Linked DNA regions of Homo sapiens. The protein of the gene in region 1 purifies or fractionates together with the protein of each later gene. This does not show direct contact. Each region holds a gene or a part of one and is shown in the gene's direction. Other genes may lie near its edges.

What was found. The genes of interacting proteins can lie anywhere in the genome.
Region 2: the proteins of CDRT15 (region 1) and MAP4K5 purify together in Homo sapiens (affinity purification with mass spectrometry; 3 studies listed by BioGRID and IntAct, with this or other methods). This does not show direct contact.

The regions. Positions count from the first base shown.
Region 1 is NC_000017.11:14,235,173-14,238,190, reverse strand, and holds CDRT15 (CMT1A duplicated region transcript 15 protein), read left to right. Parts: upstream 1-1,328; 5' UTR 1,329-1,357; coding exon 1,358-1,619; intron 1,620-1,760; coding exon 1,761-1,909; intron 1,910-2,179; coding exon 2,180-2,335; 3' UTR 2,336-2,518; downstream 2,519-3,018.
Region 2 is NC_000014.9:50,526,070-50,529,569, reverse strand, and holds part of MAP4K5 (mitogen-activated protein kinase kinase kinase kinase 5), read left to right. Parts: intron 1-3,500. UniProt on the Homo sapiens protein: May play a role in the response to environmental stress. Appears to act upstream of the JUN N-terminal pathway.

The DNA.
Region 1 (3,018 bases):
GTGATGTGGGTGTGAACATACGATTATCAACAGTGCATAATGCTTGATGAAAATAATAGATGCTGATGTTATTGTTTTATGTATTTAATATCCTATATTTTTTATTGTTATTTTAGAGTATATGCTTACTACTTTTTTTTAAGGTAACTGTGAAGCAGCCTCAGGCAGTTTCTTCAGGAGGTTTCCAGAAGAAGGCATTCTTATCAAGGAGATGACAGCTCCATGCCTGTTACTGCCCCTGAAGACCTTCCGGTGGGACAAGATGTGGAGGTAGAGGACAGTGAAATTGATGATCCTGACCCTGCTTAGCCTTAGGCGAAAGTGTCTGGTTGTGTCTTGTTTTTTAACAACAAACGGTTTAAAAGTAAAATAAATAAATAATGAAAAAAGCTCATAGAATAAGGTTAAAAAGAAACAAAATATTTTTGTATAGCTATATAATTTGTGTGGCTTTTTTGTTTATTTGTTTGAGACAGGGTCTCACTCTGTCACCCAGACTGGAGGGCAGTGGCACAATCACAGCTCACTGTGGTCTCAACCTCTTGAGCTCCAGAGATCCTCCCACCTCACTCAGGAGGACGTCAGTCCTCCAGGCAGACGTCAGTCCCCAGGTGGACCCTGGACTCAAAGTGTATACCAGGCCCCAAGTTGACAACCAGGCCCCAGATGGACACCAAGGCCCTAGGTGGACAGCAGGCCCATGTTGAACACCAGACTCATGAGGACATCAGGCCGCAGGTAGACATCATGCCTTAGGTAGATACGTAGGCTCCGGGTGGACATTAGACCCAAGGCTCCAGGTAGACATTAGACCCAAGTCCCCAGGTGATCATCAGGCCCAGGTGAAAACTCAGGCCTTAGGTGCACCTCTGGCCTCAGGTGGACACCCAGGCCCCAGGTGATCACCAGTCCCCAGGTGGACACAAGGCCTTAGGTGAACAACAAGACCCAGTAGGCCATCAGGCCCCAGCTGGATACAGTCCCCAGGTGAACACAAGGCCCCAAGAGGGACATAGGCCAAGGCAGACATCAGGCCCCAGGTGGACATCAGGCCTGAGGACGACATCTGGCCCCTGGTGAACATCAGGCACAGGTGTCCAAGCAGACCCTGGGTGGACATAACTGTGTACGGGTCAGGAGATGACCTGAGGGGAGGGTGAGTAGTCAGCAGCCCAGTGGAGTCCTGAGTAGGTCTTATGGAAGGAAGGGGACTAGGGGACAGAACCGTAAAGAAGCGACCTCACTTCCTGGATGATGACCACACGAACAGAACTTAGAACTCTGGTAACCAGGCACCCATATCCTAGAGTCAGCGCCGTAAACAGCTCACTTGGTGGGAGTCGCTCAAGAGAGCAAGATGTTCTCGTGTTGCTTCCCCACTTCGAGAGGTTGCTGCTTCAGGAATGGAGGGAGTGAGAGCCTTTTCCGACGATGCCGAAGAAGGCTCATCCCTCACCCCAGACGCCTGTCGCCCGTTGTAATAAGGCGCATCCAGGTACCACAGGACAGCCTGGGGCAGGCCCTAGCAGGCCAGGCCACACCAGAGATCCCATTGGGGCTGCAGCTGCACACTGTCCTTGTCCAGGAGATTCAGGAGCTCATTGAGGCACAGACACTTGGTGAGGTGGCCTGCAGCCTGGAAGACTTTGCGGGGGCGGTGATTTTGGGCTGGAATTCCCTTAAATTCAGTGAGGTCGTTTCTGTGTTTGGAAATTCCAGTGGAAAGTGACTGAGGCTGGTGACCCTTTCTCCTTTCTCAGCTCCTGGTCCATGTGCAGAAGTAAGAGCACTGCCAGCACCAGCGGCGGAGCCAGAGCCAGCATGGGAAGAGGCCCCTCCAGAGAGAGCACTGGAGCTGGAGGGAGCTCCAGCCAAGGACCAGACCAACGAGGAGCTGCCTGAAATCACGGCACGTACTGTAGCCACTAGCCCTAACCCTGGAACTGAAAGCGTGGCTGGAGAGAGAAGTGGGAGGGAGGGGGTGACCAGCACAGCCCCAGCCAGCAGCTCCCATGCTGCCCCTAGTCCTGGGCACGGTGGCAAACATGCAGGCAGAGAGCAGGGCATTTGGCCTGGCCTCCTGTACCTCGCTGGAGAGAGGCTTCTCTCATTCACTAGAACCACAGTCCTGCTGCTGCAGGTCCGTTTATTCTCCTGATCCTGGTTTATCTGTGTGCAGGAGGTGCCGGAGAGCATTAAAAGAAGGCTGGGAAGAAGAGTTCCAGCAGCTACGCCTGCTCCCAGAGGCAACCTCCTCCTCCAGGCATGGATGCGGGTCCACAGCTGGGCATCCAGGCTGTTTGCCCCTAATGTGCTGCCCGGGACAGGCCCTTAACAGGCGGGCAGTGGGTGAGGGGACCAGGAGGTGGCTCCAAAGGGTAAAGCAAACAAAGCTTTTAACGACAGCCGTTGTGCCCCAGGCTCTCCATGCCACCACCTGCCCTACCATTTATTAATAGTGTTAGAATTACAAGTTGATGAAACGAGATTACAATAAAGTTTGATTTCTGAAACTTCATGCCTTTTTGAACTCCCTAATGTTAGATGGTGTTTTTGAGGCTATCCTGAAAATCTCTGATAGTTGTGTCTTTTGTTGTGGTTGTTTGTGTGGCTGAATTACCATCGAGTCATCTGTTATTGGAAACCTTTCAGGTATGGCTTTTAGAAGACCTTGACCTACTCTTGACTGTTTTGACTCTCTGGTTTATTGTGGAAAGAGGGATGATGTAGGCTCATGTCTCCGGCAGATCAATCACCTTTTGCCATCAAGGATTTGGCATCAGAGTTTCCAAGAATTATGTGTGCAAGTTGATATGCTGCTACTTTAGCTAATCTGGGTGTCAAAACAGAATGCCATAGACTAGGTAGCGTAGAAAATTGATTTCTCACAGTTCTGGAGATGGTAAAATCCAAGGTCAAATTGTCAGCAGATTCCGTGGGGCTGACTTCCTGGTTCATAGACAGCCATCTTTTTTACTGTGTCTTTACATGACAGAAGGGATGAGGGAGCTCTCTGCA
Region 2 (3,500 bases), on another chromosome or scaffold:
TCTGTCTCTGATTATGCCTGCCACAGAGTAAGTACTTCCTAAAAATTTGATGAATGAATGAATGAATGAATATCAGACTCTGTCACTTAGTTCTCTGAGCACATGCTTTTGACATCATAGCACTAAGTTAGCATTTAATACTCTATGTATTCCTGTAATGCCTTCTGTTTGTCTGTTTGTTTGGATACAGGATGTCGCTCTGTCCCCCAGGCTAGAGGGCAGTGGTGTGATCTTGGTTCATTGAAGCCTCAACCTCCCGGGCTGAAGTGATCCTCCCACCTCAGCCCCCCAAGTAGCTGGCACTACAGGTGTGTGCCACCATGTCTGGCTAATTTTTGTATTTTTTTTTAGTAGAGAGGAGGTCTTGCCATGTTTCCCAGTCTGGTCTCGAACTCCTGAGCTTAAATGATCTGCCTGCCTCGGCCTCCCAAAGTATTGAAATTACAGGCATGAGCCACCACATCCGGCCCTGTGATGCTGTCTAATGATACCCTGCGTGTGTATTTTTATTACAAATTTCATCTATTTGAGTTCTCTGGGGAAATATTTCTGAAAAACTATTTTATAGTATATCCACTATCAGTGATCTAAGTCCTATAGAATTTTGTCAGTTTAAATTTACTCCTTAGTATGCCTAAAAACACATAACCTGAAACTGTAGTGCTGAATTTTTTAAGCTCTGGGCAATTAGAGTAATTTTGCTATTTATCACTGTGTTTCTGATGAGCTGAACATCCTAGGACGTTTTAGAAGTATTTTCAATGTAGGATATAAACTAGTGAAATACCTGCAGTAAAGAATAATGAAGGTAAATTAGCCACTGTTCTACTCAGATAATATCCCCCTGTGTTTTTGAGAGATGGTCTTGTGCTTTAGGCTGGAGTCCAGTGGCACGATCAGCTCACTGCAGCCTTGAACTCCTGGGCTTAAGGGATTCTCTCTCCTCAGCCTCCTCAGTAGCTGGGACTACAAGTGTGTGTGGCAACATGCCTGGCTAATTTTTTTTTTTTTTAATGTAAAGACAGGGTCTTCCTGTGTTGCCCAAGCTAGTCTCAAATTCTTGACCCCATGTGATGCTTCTGCCTCAGTCTCCCAAAGGGCTGGGATTAATAGGTGTGAGCCACCAAGCCTGGATTTTTCCCTGCCTTTTTTTTTTTTTTTTTTTTTACACCTTAGGTATCTTTTGAAGCAGAAGCTTTAAAGGACTCTGGCTTTGAGATTCTTCGTAATTTACTTTTATGTTCATCAATACCACAGATCCCCTCTGAAGCTTCCATCTTTCCTGAGAATCCCCAAGAGGGAGAGTTCAATCTTATATTGGCTGTTCTTTGGTTGAAAGAAGAGGAGGAACATAAAGATTCTTTTAGATAAATGGAGTGAATCATTGAGGGCAAGAGCAGGAAATGGTAGAGGGAAAAGAAACACAGAAGAGAAAAGGAATTTGGTGGATGGTGGATGAAGGATTAAATGTCAACTGAGCAGCTTTTATTTGTAATTACTGTAAAAATGTAGATCTGCCAGCAGGAAGGATAAATCTGGAGATTTAGATTCTCAACTACCTCTGACCACAAGGATCTATAACAACTACAGCATCATGATACAGTTCATAATCAGTAGTACAAGCCATTTGGGCAGCCCTTATCCAAATATTTGTATCAAAATTGCTTCCAGCCTAGATTTCAGAGAAGTTCTGGCAATCTGGCTTTTTATTTTTATTTTTATTTATTTATTTATTATTATTATTATTATTATTTTACCTTTCATAGAATATAAATTTAGACTGGGCAATCCTATGAATTTTTTTCTAAGCTTTATTGCTTTATCTGATTGATTATAGAAGAATAACATGTTTAGTTCCCAGGGGACAGAAACAGATGTCTCTTGCACATCTTTGTAATGTAACAAACAAATGCTCAATAAATATTTGTTGAACAAATTAGTTGTAGAAAATTACTCAGAGATAGGTACTGCTAATAATTTAATACAGTTTATTTCAGGCTTATTTCCTAAATGTTTTTAAATCAGTATTTCCAAAATGGCTTTTATATTTAATTTATGATTGGGAATATGATACAGGTCTTTTTTCTGTTTGATTGAAATGACCAGCATTTTCCCTAGTCGTTAAATATTCTACAAAAGTACATTTTTTTTTTTTTTTGGATGACAGGGTCTTGCTCTTTTGCCCAGGCTAGAGTGCAGTGGTGTAATCATACAAAAGTACTTTTTTTTTTGAGACGGAGTCTTGCAGTGTCGCCAGGCTGGAGTGCGGTGGCGCAATCTCAGCTTACTGCAACCTCCTGACTCCCTGGTTCAGGTGATTCTCCTGCCTCAGCCTCCTGAGTAGCTGGGATTACAGGCATGTGCCACCACACTCAGCTAATTTTTGTATTTCTAGTAGAGACGGGGTTTCACCAGGTTGACTAGGATGGTCTCAATCTCCTGACCTCGTGATCTGCCCACCTTGGCCTCCCAAAGTGCTGGAATTACAGGGTGAGCCACCACACCCAGTCAAAAGTACTATTTTTAAAGGATCCGTTGAATGAGCCTTCATTTAGTTAATCATTCTAAGTTGCATATTTGTTATTTCTAGTTTTTAAACTTTTTTTTTTGCAATTATAAATGATGTTATAATTTGCGTAGAAGTCTTTGTCATGTAGTCTTATCACTAACGTGGGTTCCTCTGGATGCTAGATGAATTAGGTCTGCTATGGGGAATCTCCTTTATGTATGCCTTTACTTTCTTTTCCTCCAGCCAAGAGTCACCATTCTGGAATGGCTTTAGGCACTTTGAAACATATCCCAAGATCCCATTTTATAGAGACAAAGCTTAATGTATCATCACACTTCTAGAAGCATTCATTCATTAAAGAAGTATTTGTTGAGTGCTGACAATGTGTTAGGATATGGGGATGCAAACATGAGATGAAGTACACTGTCAATAAGGAACATATGGTTTAGTCAAGAAAACAGACGTGGCCAGGCGCAGTGGCTCACGCCTGTAATCCTAGCACTTTGGGAGGCCAAGGCTGGTGGATCACCTGAGGTCAGCAGTTTGAGACCAGCCTGGCCAACATGGCAAAACCCCATCTCTATTAAAAATACAAAAATTAGCCGGGCATGGTGGCAGGTGCCTATAATCCCAGCTACTTGGGAGAGGCAAGAGAATTGGTTGAACCCGGGGGTCGGAGGTTGCAGTGAGCTGAGATTGCGCCACTTCACTCCAGCCTGGGCAACAAAAGCAAAACTCCATCTCAAAAAAGAAAAAAGAAAGCAGACATGTAAGCAGTCATAATTTGGTAGAAAATTATGTGCCATAGAGGAGAAGTGGAAGAAATGCCAAACTCTGCCTTTATTGGGGATGAAGGAAGGGAGAGAGAGGAGTGTGAACCAAGGAAGATTAACAGAGGAAGGAACATTAACTGGATTTTTAAAAGAAGACCAGTGGTTTCTAGGTAGAGAAGATAGGAAAAGATATTCCAGGCTTTGGGTATAGTATGTGC